Regions from separate parts of the Homo sapiens genome. Here all the other regions are reported to be linked to region 3. Evidence: microRNA targets listed by miRTarBase, many of them from high-throughput screens and not tested one by one. Region 3 holds a microRNA gene; each other region holds the end of a gene's coding sequence.

The links. Region 3 holds the annotated microRNA hsa-miR-593-3p (UGUCUCUGCUGGGGUUUCU, at 1,529-1,547, shown strand). A microRNA usually pairs through its seed, bases 2 to 8, with sites in the 3' UTR of a target mRNA and lowers its output. Matches are read on the target gene's strand: a 7mer-m8 pairs with bases 2 to 8, a 7mer-A1 pairs with bases 2 to 7 and ends in A, and an 8mer does both.
Region 1: miRTarBase lists ELOVL7 as a target of hsa-miR-593-3p. Seed matches in the 3' UTR shown: 7mer-A1 at 2,338-2,344 and 7mer-A1 at 1,602-1,608.
Region 2: the mRNA of CDC6 is a reported target of hsa-miR-593-3p. Seed matches in the 3' UTR shown: 7mer-A1 at 2,679-2,685 and 7mer-m8 at 1,448-1,454.
Region 4: miRTarBase lists ZBTB8A as a target of hsa-miR-593-3p. Seed matches in the 3' UTR shown: 7mer-A1 at 798-804.

What each region holds. Positions count from the first base shown.
Region 1 is chr5:60,751,170-60,755,169 of GRCh38, forward strand. It overlaps ELOVL7 (ELOVL fatty acid elongase 7), which reads right to left. Exons shown (of 9, transcript NM_024930.3): 9 at 622-3,664. The coding sequence ends at 3,455. Among named protein-coding and RNA genes, the nearest start is that of DEPDC1B, 53 kb to the left of the region's middle.
Region 2 is chr17:40,301,223-40,305,222 of GRCh38, reverse strand. CDC6 (cell division cycle 6) reads right to left here. Exons shown (of 12, transcript NM_001254.4): 11 at 3,615-3,755; 12 at 566-3,311. The coding sequence ends at 3,222. Among named protein-coding and RNA genes, the nearest start is that of RARA, 6.0 kb to the left of the region's middle.
Region 3 is chr7:128,080,411-128,084,410 of GRCh38, forward strand. MIR593 (microRNA 593) reads left to right here and starts at 1,451; the gene lies at 1,451-1,550. It overlaps SND1 (staphylococcal nuclease and tudor domain containing 1), which reads left to right. Exons shown (of 24, transcript NM_014390.4): 18 at 950-1,091.
Region 4 is chr1:32,600,117-32,604,116 of GRCh38, reverse strand. ZBTB8A (zinc finger and BTB domain containing 8A) reads right to left here. Exons shown (of 5, transcript NM_001040441.3): 5 at 1-4,000. The coding sequence ends at 3,698. Among named protein-coding and RNA genes, the nearest start is that of ZBTB8OS, 48 kb to the left of the region's middle.

The DNA.
Region 1 (4,000 bases), not on the chromosome of region 3:
AGTAGTTTAGATACAGAGGATTTATTAGATTCAAGTTCAAAAATTTTTTTGCCACGAATACCTCAGAGTATTATAGTGTATTATGAGACAAAACATCTGGTTGTCCCACTTTGAATGATATTAAGATTGATCACTGGGTTCAGTCATATCAGCACAAGCCATCCCCATCAACCTTTCATCTAATTGTTTTAGCAACCAGTGATCATTAGCTAGTCCCATTTATTAGAGACAGTGGGGATGGCAAAATATTCTTTTTTGTTAATTCTTTCCACTTAAAAAACCTTGCCTACTAACATACCACCAATTTTGAAATTCTGTACAACCTAAACACATAACTCAAATTCAAATTCCTTCATAGAGTCTTCCCTGTCTGCTAAGTGGCAGAACTGTCACTCATCTGGCACCTATCATCTACTGCCCTGTCACATAATTTCATCTGCCAGTTGGTAAGCTCCAGGAGATCCCAATTATGTTCTAAGTATCTTTGTATCCCAAAGATGAACACAGCACGTATACAAGAAATATGTAAAATAACTTTGATTGGTGAGTATTCAAATTAAAAGTCACCAACCCATGCAAATACATGCAGCTAGATTCCAAAATGAAAAATATACACACGTATACATGCAATACCACAAATTTATTATAATACACAGGGAAAAACAAACTCAAACTTTGACAACATCCACAGAATGTTCCAGTCTTTAAAAAGTTAGCAGAAATAAAGGGTAATGGAAAGAATATAATCTCGTAATTTTATACTTAAGGCTGTAAATGGCAAAGTCCCATAGATATTTAAAAATCTATATTTGTATTTATTTATAATATAGATATAGGCCCTCAAGGATTCATAGAGATTTATGTAATAAACTAGATTTTGGAACTATTTATTTTGTTGTTGTTGTTGCTTGTTAGGTAAGCAAACCCAAACAAATTAAGTCCTGAAAAGTGGGATGAAATCCCAAAGGAACTCTATGTGACCACACAGAACTCTTTTAATAAATATGGCCCATACAAATTCCATATCCAGTGAAAATCATTTTGATCCACAATCATGTTGATGTTTCTATGGAGGATACTTCTAGCAGCTGTGATTTCTTTTGTAGCATTCTGGCTCTCCACTTCTATTCATATAATTGAGTATGTGTTTTATTACATGTTAGCTTATAGGCAAGTTAAACATTTTAAAGACTACAGGGAGGTTAGGAGAGGTTGTATGATGAAGGTCGGAAAGTATGCAAGAAATAAACTCTCCTGTTTCATCTCTTTTATTTTTGCCTCATTTTGGTCTCTATACTACTTGGGTTCTTTGGAAATGGTGTGATTTCTAACAGCACCTAGCATACCTTCTCATTTTAGCACAGGTTAGATATGAAGAGCCAAACCTGGAAAACAGTTAAGGAGTCCTGAGACCTTTCCAGTGGAATAAATTAGAGCAGCAGTTTCATTTAGCTGTGCTCTTTTGTCCTTCATTCTTTATTTTCTAAAAATATAAAATTATGGCCGGGCACAGTGGCTCACCCCTGTAATCCCAGAACTTTGGGAGGCCGAGGTGGGAGGATCACCTGAGGTCAGGAGCTCGAGACCAGCCTGGCCAACCCTGTCTCTACTAAAAATACAAAAATTAGCTGAGCATGGTGGCGGGCACCTGTAATCCCAGCTACTTGGGAGGCTGAGACAGGAGAATCACTTGAACCTGGGAGGCAGAGGTTGCAGTGAACCGAGATTGTGCCATTGCACTCTAGCCTGGGCAACAAGAGTAAAACTCTGCTTCAGAAAAAAAAATAATAAATTATATATATATATGTAATTACTCCCATTTATCAACCTTTACCTTCTCATGCTGTAATCAAGTAAAATCACAAAAGATCACTTAAAGGCAAATAACCTTATGAATCTGGTAAGTGTAAACATAAAAATACTTACTGTACACAGAGTACAATAAGTATCTCTGTGTGTTCAAAATTAACTGGGGCTTTAAGTACTAATTGTTTAAAGTCCTACAAACATAAACAGTGCTTCAAAATTGAGTATAAATAAAAGAAGAAAAAAAATAGGGAAAAATTCACAAATGTCCAAATATTATTTCATGGACAAAACTCTACTGACTAATAGTTTTGATTCTCTGACAAGAAAATGTAAAAATAACAGAAAGAAACTAGCAATTTTAAAGAAACAAAGTGTATGCCAAACGAATTTCAGTCCTTCATTACATGGTTTATAGGTCTGGAAACAGAAATCCAGGTTGTTAATTAATTCATAATTCCAGAAAATGTTTTATTGTTCAGTGTATCTATAACATTAATTATATAATATATTACTATTATGTAGTCTGTCTGTCTCTCTCTCAAAGTAGAACAGCCCTTGCTTACATAATCAATTTTCCCCTGGATATTCTCTGTGCCACAATTTGCCTCTAGTTGCTTCACAGCCACTCTAACTCATATCTGGAAACTGTGTACAATGGGTAATATTATTTATGATTTAAGGGTAGTACCTGTAGTGTGCTAATAATATGAACATTTAAGTATCTAACCTATATATTTCACCAAGATAATAATTTAAACCATGACAATGTAAGAAAGTGATGTGATACTATAACAGACAACAGGTTTTTCCCACTGAACTACACAATACTTTTTTCATTGACAAATTCACCTCTTTCCAGAGATATACAAAGTTAATTGTAAAACAGTAATAGCAAAGTATTCATTAACCCATTAAAACAAATCACCTTGTTTTGAAAATAATCAACTGAATGAAACTTGGTATCAAGTGTACTAACCCAAAGGATTGCTACTTTGAAACAGTTTGTACAACAAATGGGTTGTGAGGAAGTCTTATCAGCAAAACTGGTGATGGCTACTGAAAAGATCCATTGAAAATTATCATTAATGATTTTAAATGACAAGTTATCAAAAACTCACTCAATTTTCACCTGTGCTAGCTTGCTAAAATGGGAGTTAACTCTAGAGCAAATATAGTATCTTCTGAATACAGTCAATAAATGACAAAGCCAGGGCCTACAGGTGGTTTCCAGACTTTCCAGACCCAGCAGAAGGAATCTATTTTATCACATGGATCTCCGTCTGTGCTCAAAATACCTAATGATATTTTTCATCTTTATTGGACTTCTTTGAAGAGTACTGTATTGCTTCATATCTTTTTTTCACTGCAACAAAATGTTTTAAACAAAACCTTTGGATTAGGTTTAAAAGCAGCTAAAAAAACAAAAACAAAAACAAAAACAAATTCTGGCTGCTGTAGGCTCTAATTATCAGAAGACTGTTATCTGGAAGCTTCGGGCTCTCAAATATCAGACATCCCAATAACTTACCATAAAAATACAAGCTCTTAGTTTTGAAAAATATACAAAATGCACTGCATAGGTAAATATCTCTTGATTGTCAAGGAAGACAATGTATCAGTTTCGATCATAGACTTATGTTGGGCTTCAATTATCTTTGTTTTTGCAAGTTCCATTTTTCACAGTTTTGGGCAACCTCTGACCTTTGGTGTAAGCACGGTACCAAAAATGGAGAAAGAGCAGCAGAAACATGAAACTGTAACTCATAATGATGCACGCAAAGACTGGAAACTGATACTTGCAATCCTCCATGAAAAAGAACTGGCTTATGTGGATGGCGACAATAACAAACTGGACCTAAGAAATGAAAACGTGAAAAAAAATTATTCAGATATGAAGAGTTAACAATTCTTTACCTACCTATGTTTATGCACTCCCAAAGTGCAGGGAGTGCACTATTGGGCAAAGAAGTCCATCTTTAAATCTAGCCTCCCTGAGAGTGATAATGGGTGGTATAATGTCAAAAGCCAGTTGGAAGTATGGATCCACTATTCAGAACCACAAAATTGCACAACCGCAGGGTCTATATTTAAATGTTCCCTGGAGCTGTGCAGTGCAGCAACCTTTTTACTACTCAGAGAATCAACAGAGCAGGTTTTCTCTAACAGTCTCTGACTTGAGTCCTTGACTATG
Region 2 (4,000 bases), not on the chromosome of region 3:
AATTCTCCTGTCTCAGCCTCCCAAGTAGCTGTGATTATAGGTGTGTACCATGGCACCCAGTGAATTTTTGTACTTTTAGTAGAGACAGGGTTTCGCCATGTTGGCCAGACTGGTCTTGCACTCCTGACCCTTAAGTGATCAGCCCGCCTTGGCCCCACAAAGTGCTGGGATTACAGGCATGAGCCATCACACCCAGCATTTTTTTTTTTCCTTTTTGAGACAGTCTCATTCTGCTGCCCAAGCTGGAGTGCAATGGCACGATCTCGGCTCACTGCAACCTCTGCCTCCCAGGTTGAAGCGATTCTCCTGCCTCAGCCTCCCAGTAGCTGGAATTACAGGAACACACCACAATGCCTGGCTAATTTATTTTAGTAGAGACAGGGTTTCGCCATGTTGGCCAGACTGGTCTCAAACTCCTGACCTCAGGTGATCCGCCCGCCTCGGCCTCCCAAAGTGCTGGATTACAGGCGTGAGCCACCACCCCCAGCCTGGACCTCACACATTCTTGCAGAGTTAGCTAGCCACAGGCAAGTCTCCATTGAGCCAGAAACATCTGTGGCAGCTCTGGGGTTGAAACACACAATTTATTTTGTCTATGCTCTTTCCATGGCAACACCCAACACTCTATGGAAGCTTAATCAGCTTCCTTGGGGTGGGGGAGAGAGATAAACCAGGATATAGACACACACTCCATCACCTTCAAAAGGAAGAATGTAGGTCAGCATCTTTGCCACTACTCTAAGTGAAGCAGCCTATGATCCTGGCAAAAACTGCTAACCACAAGCCCATCCCATCCCATCCCACTAAAACTCCTACCACCTTCCTGAAGCTCTCAGCTTCAGGGAGAAAAGCCAGCAAGGAAAGGGCTTTCTTCCTCAGCAGTCTGAATTACACTTAAGACTTTACTGACAAACATATATCAGCTTTTGCTCCCACAAGGGCAGCAGAAGCCAAGCAGGGACACTAAGTCTGCTTCATGCATCATTGACAGAACCAACCCTGTTCCAACTGCTAAAGTCTTAAGAGCAGCAATGACCTAGAAATTGACAGTGAGGGGAGAAGAAAAGGAAACTAACAAATCAGTAGACAGAAAACTCTATTTCCAAAACCAGGGGAAAGGGAAAGATAGAGGGGAAAGAAATTTGGCCCCTTTGAATCTACCAATGTGATTTTGGCTGGAAGCCAGGGAGGATACATAGCAGCCCCACTGCGAGTCAAGCCATGTTCCTGACTCAAGCCCTACAGTTAAGAGGAAGGCGCCAAGCCTCAAACACAATGAGGTGGGGAGGCTGCTCCTTATTGGGCAGGATCCTACTGTGGACACAGAACAGACAGCAGCTGCCCACAGTGTGGAAACAAACTGTAAAGCAGTCACGTCTCTTAAGGCTGCAGCATCCAATAAAATGTAATTTAAATCAAGCTTCGCATCTGTTCTCAATCCCATTCAGTCTCTGCTTTCCATCAGCCTTCGGACAATCTTTGCAATTATGCATGTTAACCCTTATAGTCCCAGACACTTTCCAACCTTCTAGGTATAGAACTGTGTTTCCATGTTCAAACTACCTTCAGAGGGAACGAATACTCTAGTAAAGGAGTGTGAGAACAACATTCAGACTCATGCCTACAGACTATCATGTGCTACACACACCAGTGGGTAGTGTTCATTTCAGAGGGCTCTCTCTGCTTTCCTTGCCTCTATCCCATACCACCTGTTGTAGCTCAGATCACATTACACGGATACAGTGGTCAGGATGAATGAAACAGTGGCCAACAGATCACTTGTACACATATCAAGTTCCAAATGGAAGGCCATGTCAGAAAGGTAGAGGCGGCAGCAGGAGAGCTCAGGGAAAAGCAGACTTGGTCACTGGCTCTCAGATCATTCGTATCACACATGGTTTACATTTCAAGCATTTGCTTCAGTTATGAAAGGACAGCAATCTCCCAAACAAATCAAACTAGAACTTCCCCCTTTCCCTCAAAACTACCTCAGCCTCAAGCATCCCCTTTCAAAGTAGTCAATGTTATAAGGGTGCCCTCTGGTGTCTCAGTCACAAATTGCCATTTAATGCCACCAAACCAAACCCAGAAGGCTCTTGATTAACCAACCATATGGACTAATTTATCTAATAAGACTGGAAAAATGTGTTTAGATGAAAACCCAACCCCAAAGTAGTCATCTTGAAACAAGTGGCTTCATCTAAGGGCAGCAAAGACTGTGGGACAGCCTAGGAAGGAATTTTCACATTGACTTCTGAAAGCTTGAGCTCTCTTGAAATCTGATTGCTTAAAAAGACAAAGAATGCAACTTGAAAATAAATATATTCACAATCTGTAGAGTTATAGTCTCCTTATGACCCCAACGCCCTTGGGAGTGCCCAAGAAACTCAACGAGTCTAAAATGCCACAATGTTGTAGTATCTGCACCATGAACATAGTATACTATACAAAGAAATAAATTCTTTAACCAGTGTCCTCCAAATCTCCATGTGGACTTGCTTGCATTTTTCTGGATCATTTTCATTCTTCTTACCCTAAACTTAAAGTTCTTAACAAAATACCTTAATGGCTGAGCATGGTGGCTCACGCCTATAATCCCAGCACTTAGGGAGGCCAAGGTGGGCAGATCACTTGAGGGTCAGGAGTTCAAGACCAGCCTGGCCAACATGGTAAAACCCTGTCTCTACTAAAAATTAAAAAATTAGCTGGGCGCGGTGGTGGGCACCTGTAATCCCAGCTACTCGGGAGGCTGAGGCAAGAGAATCACTTCAACCTGGGAAGCGGGTGCTGTAGTGAGCAGAGAACGCGCCATTGCACTCCAGCCTGGGCAACAGGGTGAGACGCGCCTCAAAAACAACAACAACAAAAAAAACAAACAAAAAAATACCCACTCATGTTTGAGCAAACGAAGAGGTAAATATACACACATTCCTCTACACAGATCTGTACACTTGCAAGCACATTGGCTAGAGATACACAAGTGGTAGAAGTAGTGAATGTAATTAAAAAGGGTCTACCTGGTCACTTTTATGGGTAAAAATAGTAAGACCCAAAGATATTATTCTGTGCTAATATTAAAGAATCTATAGATTAAAATTCATTGGCTTCAAGTAAAAAAGGTCATATTTGTTTTCAGGCCCGAATGTGTAAAGCACTAAAATGAAGACTGTAGCTCTCTAAATGCCAGCTGAATACTTTCGGGTGGGGTGTAAGAGAAGAATTTAAGGCAATCCAGTAGCTAAGATATTTCCAATTAAAGCTTTATCTTTCAGAGCATGTTCTATTTCTTTCTCTTCAATCTTGAAAAACACCTGGAAAGAAGAGAAAAGGATTTTTCACACTGGGGAACTCACAAAAGCAAAGTTGTCAGTATACAAACTTCTACCATATTAAACTTTTTCTCACAAAAGGCAAGCAAGTTAAACACTTTTTTTTCCAATGGCTTGAAAAAATATTCATATCACACTCCCATCTTTACACACCTTAAACCTTACCTAACAAAAAACGACTTGTTTAACTAACTGTGGTCATCTTGTTTAACAATAAACCTTTACTTTAGCATCACTCTACAAAATAGGACAATTAAAAACACTGTCACAAAAAAGCAGTTGTACCTTTGTCAAACGGGTTTCCTTGTTTCTCTTTAATCCTAAAATGCCCCTGGCTTCCAAGAGCCCTGAAAGTGACAAACACTCTGACTGGTCCACAGCCGCCACCTGCTGTTTGCGACAGACTTTACTGTAGGCTTCATATAACTGGTAGGAAACAAGGGAGAACAAACGCTGCTTAAAAGTCACATTGCTTATAGCCTTTAATCATTTAAGAAACCTGAGTCTGGGTTTGCAAAAACTTATCTGAATACCCTATTTCTTCCTCTTTTCAATAAAATCTTTGAACAGGCTTCTGTAGATATTCCCGAAAACCTATACAGTAATGTAGGAAAGGGGCTTTATATATTTCCTAGAGAGATGCAGAAATGAAGGGGAGGATAGGGAAAGGA
Region 3 (4,000 bases):
TGGCCCAGCTTCTGGGCTGAGGTCAGAGCAACCTGCTGGAGGTGAGGAGGATGGAGAAAGGGAAAGTTGCTGAGCAGAAGCATTCTTGGTGAGCTCTTCCCCAGCCTAGGGCTGTGGCTTGGACTGCTTCAGGAGCACCAGGAGCCCTGTGACAGCAGGAGGTCCTGCAGAATTCAGAGTGCCCTGCAGAGTGCCACGGGGAAGGGAGATGGGGAGCTGGAGCAAGAGAGGTGCGGGTGTGAGGAGCCCAGAGCCAAAGAGTTCATGAAAGCAGGGCTCTCACACTCGGACGTGCATGAGATAGCCTGGGATCTGGTTTTGCTCTTTTTTACTCTCTGGGATGCTCAGAACAGATTGTAATTTGGTAGGCCTGGGGTAGGATCTGGGGCCTGCATTTTTAATAAATTCCCTTGTTGGTTCTGATGCCTGCCAGAATTTGAGAACTGCTAGATCAGGACTTTAGAGAACTCACCTTTCCCCTCCGAGATAGAGGGCTTCAGGGGCTCAGCCTGGTGTGAATCGAGTGCCCCACAGTCACTCGCCCAGGGCCGATCCCATTTGCCCAAAACCCCTTTCCCAGTGTCTTTTTTTTTTCTTCTTTTTTGAGACGGAGTCTTGCACTGTCGCCCAGGCTGGAGTGCAGTGGCATGATCTTGGCTCACCGCAACCCGTGCCTCCCAGGTTCAAGCGATTCTCCTGCCTCAGCCTCCCAAGTAGCTGGGATTACAGGCGCCCACCACCGCACCCAGCTAATTTTTTGTATTTTTAGTAGAGATAGAGTTTCACCATATTGGCCAGTCTGGTCTTGAACTCCTAACCTCGTGATCCACCCGCCTCGGCCTCCCAAAGTGCTGGGATTACAGGCATGAGCCACCACGCCTGGCCTCCCAGTGTCTTTTATGACTTCACTTCCTCGCCCTCTTCTCACCTCTGCCGACTGAACATGCAGGTCTGGGCCCACTATGAGGAGCAGCCCGTGGAGGAGGTGATGCCAGTGCTGGAGGAGAAGGAGCGATCTGCTAGCTACAAGCCCGTGTTTGTGACTGAGATCACTGATGACCTGCACTTCTACGTGCAGGATGTGGAGACCGGTGAGTGCTCAGGCCGCTGGCTCGTGGTTCCTGGCTTGGTCCAGCTGGCGCTGCCTGGGGGTAGGGGGCCTCTGCCCAGTGGGTGGGAGGAACAATGCCTAGGCAGTCCAGGAGCCTCCCCTGAAGAGCTCACGTTGCCGCCCCTGTCTCCCTGCCTTGTCCCACTGCTCCTCTGGGCTTGGAGTTACTTCAGGAGCCTTCACATGAGCCCTGGCTTGGGCTCAGGCATGGAGGTGCTGCCGGACAGGTCCTCTGGACGCAGGTGAGATAACCAGGTTTATCTGGGTGGAGCTCTGAGTCTCTTAGGTGATTGTTTGTTCCTACATACCCCTGGCTATGCTGGGCAGGATGATTTGTAGCCCCCAGAATCTGTCAGGCACCAGCCAGGCATTGCTCAGCCCGTTTCCCTCTGGGGGAGCAAGGAGTGGTGCTGGGTTTGTCTCTGCTGGGGTTTCTCCTTCTCTAGAGGTTAACATAGCCCTGAGTGATAGCCAGTTTCCATGGAAACAGGCAGCGCTCTAGGGGAAGACATCCCCGGGCAGTCTCTGAAGGACCTTCTCCTCCTTCCGTCCTGAGTGGTGTGCACTGTGGCCAGGGTCCCCTGGGCAGAGACCTGGGGTTTCTGGAGGCCAAAGGGCAGGAGAGAGCTCTGGCAGCCGCTAGCCCGACTACACCTCCAACCGCTTACGCTTTCCACCCTGACCTCCCTTTTCTCATGGCCACCCTGTGCAGGGAAACAGTTGAGTTTGGAGCGGAAGGAAAAGCTCTTAGAGCTGCTTCTGGATCCCAGGAAACAAATCATGGTAGGCACAGGTGGACAGAGGGGGCTAGAAGTGTCAGCAGCACTTGGGCAGTCCCCCAGATGGCAGGACACAGCTCTGCCCAGCCTCCTCAGCCCACCCCAGGTCCGCTCCAGCCCCGTCTCAGCCACTTCCCTCTAATGCTGTTTCCCAGGCAGCTGCCTTTGTGGCAGTGTCATTTCACCAGGAAAAACTTGACCATTCCTGGCCCTGGGCTGGCTGTGCTTGAAAAAGGAAAAACGCAAGGGGGAGGGGTAGAGATGGAGCCCACGAGCCTGCGGGATTAGGTTCTCTTGAGGTCAGCCACAGTCCTGCTGAAAGCTGCTCCAGCAGTTGCCTGAATGAACCGGGGCGGTGGCCAGCCTTTAGGGCTGGGTCATGTGACAGGGAAGGAGTCTTGTAGTGGTGGTCTCAGTGGGAACAAGAGCCGTTCCTGGGCAGAGGAACCAGCTGGAATCCACCACCCCAAAATCCCCGCCAGCCCACCAGAGAACTTGAGCAAAAGGATGCGATCACTCCCAGGCAGGCTCTACTCAGCCTCTGGGTCCTGCTGGGGAGGACCCGCCTTGACTCAGAACAAGCCCCTGAAGTCTTAGAGAGCAGAAATCTGAGGCAGAAAACAAGAGAAAAGAGAAAACCATGTGTCCTTAGAATGCTGGAAGAGAAGGGAGTGAGGCCCTTCCTGGCAGGCCACCTGGGGATTTGTGGTGGGCTCCAGAGAGGAAGGCCCCTGCCCTCTGGTGGCTCCATGGTATCCATGGAGATGAACCTCAGGATCCACAGCCCCCTCTCTGCTGAAACCTTTCATCCCCTCTTGGGTGGCATCCTCTCACCCTGTCTCCCTTCTTTCAATTAGAGTCTGTCTTCAAGAGGGATCTGACGAAAACATTGCCATTAGCTGCAAATGACCAGTGAGGCTCTGTAAGGACCTCCCAGAGGGCTTTGCCTGTTGGCAGGAGACAAAGTCCTGCTTCTGTTGCCTTGGAGCAAAAAAAATGAAAGTAGACCAAGTTAGGGAGGAAGCTGTCTGTCAAGGCTTCTTAATCCCTGGAATTTCACTGTCTATGGCAAGGAGCACTGTCTAAAGAGAATTATAGAGGGCTGACCACTGGGTAGGGAGAGGGGCGGCTGCTACCTTCAGGCCTCTGTCGTGTGGATGCAGGACCAGTGGCCTCTGCAGCAGCTTAAGAGTGGACATACATCCCTGCATGCTTATGCAGTTTATTTTCAATGCAGCTGAATTATTAAGCACCCTGCATGCATTGGGGATTCTACCAGGCTTTGTGCAAGTAAACAGAAAGAAGTGAGCTATGCTCTATGCCCTGAAGGAGCTCACAGTATAGTAGCAGGGAACTTATAAGGCTGACTGTGGCAAGTGTAACAACAGACATATGTTGCGCCCTCCTTACAGCACTGCCTTGGGCCTGAAGATAAAGAGAGGAGCCCCACACTTAGACCACAGATCCACAGTCACCCTCCTTGCTTCTGAGACGCAAGGGGCAAAAAAGGTCTGAGACTGAGCTAGAATCAGGGCCAGAAGGGACTGATGCCTCCCAGAGTCAGGGTGGGAGAATTCTACAAGGAGCCAGGGAGAGAAACTGAGTAGGCCCTGGGTGTTGCTAAAACAGGCAAAAGCAGCAAATAAGCAGCAGGACCACTGACCCAAGGTCAGAGTGCTTAGGGAAAGACAAGGCAGGGAATCCCTCCTCCTGTGGCGCAGGGGCCCTGAGTAGCAGGGTGGGACAGTACAGCCCCAGCCCAGCAGCACTGGAAGTCCTGTTCAGCATGTATCTTGCAGGGTGACAAGGGTCAGAGGGGCCAAGTTTGAATAATACTGAGGCTCTAGGCCCTGATCCAAGAATTCCTCCCCCACCTTCCATGGCTTCAATTCTGGGGCCTTTTCCACGGTGGTGTGGGGCCCATCCTTCATCCCTACTTTTGCCCCCTGAAAGACAGTAGACAGTGGCTTCTGTCAGTTACCACCTCTGTGGCCCAGGCCAGGAGCTGGCCTTGCAGGAATGGGGTACGGGCTGGCCAGCTCTCACCCTGGAGGAGGCTGTTTGGATTGTCCTTGCTCCCTGTCTACTTTCTTTCTCCACCTCCTTAATC
Region 4 (4,000 bases), not on the chromosome of region 3:
ATTCCTGCAAGAGCAAACTTTGGTCTAACCAAGTCTTGATATTAAAAAAAAAATCCTTGGCATAAATAAAGCTTATTTAAACAGATTATACCCCTATGTAACATTTGCCCACATGTAAAAACCAAAGAATTCAATTTTCTCAATCATCAATAGACAGTTTCACTCTAGAAAATAACTGGTCTCTAACGTCTTAGATATATATGCTATAACTGGAGTCATTATTTACAACTTACAAACATGTCTTAAATGTTCTTCTATGATGTTAAAATGATACAACAGATTCTTTGTCTAGTTTGGTGAACTTGATCATTTTGTGGGGATAGTTTGATGCTCGTTATAAACAATTATGAGAAAGCATTATTTCTGAAAAGGCAATTACAAGTGCTGGTGGCACTGTGTTCAGTGAATGTTGGATATTCATGCTGATGTATGTAAAGTTTGCATGCAGAAGATAATAGCATAAAAGGACATTTAGATCATAGACTAAAGTGCATTAGAGTACACACATGCAAGCACTACTTCATTTATAGGAAAAAAGTTCAAATCAGCCATTTTTCCTACTGGCTCCAACAACTAAAAAATCAGGTTTTAATTTCAAAAGGTGTCAGTATTAATTGGGTAAGACTAGAGAATGACAAGCGTTTCCTTCCTCATTCAGATACACTTTAATTGTTAAGAATCCTGATTTAGGCCGGGCGTGCTGGCTCACGCCTGTAATCCCAGCACTTTGGGAGGCTGAGGCGGGCAGATCACGAGGTCAGGAGTTCGAGACCAGCCTGGCCAACATAGCGAAACCCTGTCTCTACTAAAAATACAAAAATTAGCCAGGCATGGTGGCACATGCCTGTAGTCCCGGCTACTCAGGAGGCTGAGGCAGGAGAATCGCTTGAACCCGGGAGGCAGAGGTTGTGGTGAGCGAGATCACGCCACTGCACTCCAGCTTGGACAACAGAGCGAGAGTCCATCTCAAAAAAACCAGAATCCTGATTTAGGAACAGCCATGTTGGGAGAACAGAGAACTCAATGCACATCATCCAGTCTTGAAGCAACTGCAAATGTGCCATCAGGGGAATCTTGAAAAAGTCTCAATTAAGTACCATGAAACAAGTGGTTATTCATCTATTTTTAAATTTTTTAAAAGAAAGTAACCAATTTAGCCTAGAAATTGGTATCAAGGACAATAATTAATGAAAGAACAAGAGAAAATAGTAACATAAAAAGGATAATTTTGAGGTATGTCATGGCATTTAAAAATACAGTAAAATTGGCTGGGCGCAGTGGCTCACGCCTGTAATCCCAGCACTTTGGGAGGCCGAGGGGGGCGGATCACGAGATCAGGAGATTGAGACCATCCTGGCTAACACGGTGAAACCCCATCTCTATTAAAAATACAAAAAATTAGCTGGGAGTGGTGGTGGGCGCCTGTAAGTCCCAGCTACTCGGGAGGCTGAGGCAGGAGAATGGCGAGAACCCGGGAGGTGGAGCTTGCAGTGAGCTGAGATTGCACCACTGCACTCCAGCCTGGGCGACAGAGCGAGACTCCGTCTCGAAAAAAAAACAAAAACAAAAAAGAAAACAGTAAAATAGATGGAGCCTCTCCATATACAGTGAAATTCTATCAAGCTTCACTGTGATAACTTGCAGAAGAGACCTTTATGAAGCTCAGTTCTTTACTTCGGATATTTAGATTTTACCTTTAGAACTGAAACAATGCTTCTCTAATTTAGCTGTAATTTTGGAATGTTTCATAATTTATGCAGGGGAGAAGTTTTTTTTTTTTTTTTTTTTGAGACGGAGTTTCGCTCTTGTTGCCCAGGCTGGAGTGCAATGGCGCAACCTCAGCCCACCGCAGCCTCTGCCTCCTGGGTTCAAGCTATCCTCCTGCCTCAGCCTTCTGAGTAGCTGGGATTACAGGCATGCACCACCACGCCCGGCTAATTTTGTATTTTTAGTAGAGACGGGGTTTCTCCATGTTGGTCAGGCTGGTCTCAAACTCCCGACCTCGGTGATCCACCTGCCTCAGCCTCCCAAAGTGCTGGGATTACAGGCGTGAGCCACTGGGCCCAGCCCAAAGGGGAGAAGTTTAAACTTTGTATACTAGGAGAAAAGTTTGTTTTGAAAATATTATATAAACAAGAGAAGCAAAAATGTTCAACATATTTAAGTGAATAATTTGTTCAAATAGTTTTATACTTTAAATTTACATATAAATAACGTGACATAAAAACATACCAATAGGTACTGTAGGGACATTACTTAGCATTATTTGAAAATCTCTAGATCAAGATATTGTATGTTGTTGAAAATGATTCAATTCCTCCTTTCATACTTTCTAATTCTGATTGGCTTATTTTTATAATGACTGCCAACTGGTGAGGTTTGACTTCTATTCTTTGCCATTTCAGGAGACATACAGGGAGAGAAGGCTGAAAGAGGATTGTTTAAAATCAGATCCTGTCCAATCATCAGTTTTCTCTCTCAGACTTTCTGACCTTAATTTCCTCATTTGTAAATCGGAGATAGTATCCACCTCACTGAGAAAATACATGAGAGAGTACTTTATAAATAATATAGCACTACATAAACGTTAGAAATCACTCACATATGGTAAGAACCTCCTAGTTTGTTTTCCTTTTTTTTTTGAGACGGAGTTTCGCTCTTGTTGCCCAGGCTGGAGTGCAATGGTGTGATCTCGGCTCACTGCAACTTCTGCCTTCCAGGTTCAATCGATTCTCCTGCCTCAGCCTCCCGAGTAGCTGGGATTATAGGCACCCGCCACCATGCCCGGCTAATTTTGTATTTTTTAGTAGAGACGAGGTTTCACCATGTTGGCCAGGCTGGTTTCAAACTCCTGACCTTGTGATCCGCCTGCCTCGGCCTCCCAAAGTATTGGGATTATAGGCATGAGCCACAGCGCCCAGCCTGCTTTTCTTTAGAGAGATGGACAACCATATTGACAGATTGTCTTCACAAACTACCTTGACTTTTAGGCAACATTAGTTTCCTGCTTTAAGAAAATATCTGTATATAATCTTTGGCCAGCCTCTACTTTTTTTTTTTTTTAACAATACTGAGAGTAATTTTTAAGCTAATGATAAAAATTTCAAATATGAATGATTTCAAACACTTTAGTCTTCTTCCATAATCCTTAAACGTTCAGGATATCAGAGTAATGACAGGTTGTTTCAGATCTCAAATTAATAGAAAGACTAATTTGTTTAGTAAGGTGGGTTGCCAGATCCTTAAATGTGCTCTTAACTGGTTCCCTGTGAAATTAAACATTGGTAGTTATGTGTTTTTGAAACACCTTGAAATTGTCTTACATAAAGTTTGGTTGTGGTGAATTTATTTAAAGTATTTTCTTTGAAAAAAGTTTGCTAAGTAGATCCTCCAATATTAAAAGAAAAAGGTATCTCTGGAATAAAGTAAGAGGATTGTAATGAAAGTAAGAGGATAATTGTTCATCCATCAAGCCAACTCAAGCTAGTTCTTTCTTTCCAGTGCAGCAACACATTTTAGGGCAACAAAGTTCAGAATGGATACAATGGCCTGTTCAGAAAGCATGCAAGTTATATCAGATCATTTCTTTAAAGTCAGTGTGATAAATTTGTTAACTAGACTCCGACCATAGAAAGAGAGAGATACAGGAAGTCAATGTAAATTGCAGACATGCCAGCTCTGTTGGTTCACATTACAGCTACCTAATGTTGGGCTTAATTTCTTTTTCTTCTTCTTCTTCACTATCATCAACCTGTTGGATGACCAGATCAGCAGACCCATCTTCTACAATCTCCACATAGGATCTATTCTCATCTTCACTCAAGTGCCATCTGGAATCCTTATCTCCATCTGATGGGGACATAAGATGTTGTTCAGCTTCCAAGTCAATGGGGAGGCTGTCTATGCCAAATTCTGCAAGACACTCATTACACAGTCTGTAGCGCCTGGTTCCCTCCTGTACCACTTGCCCTGTTAGATCTGTCACATGACGTTTACATTT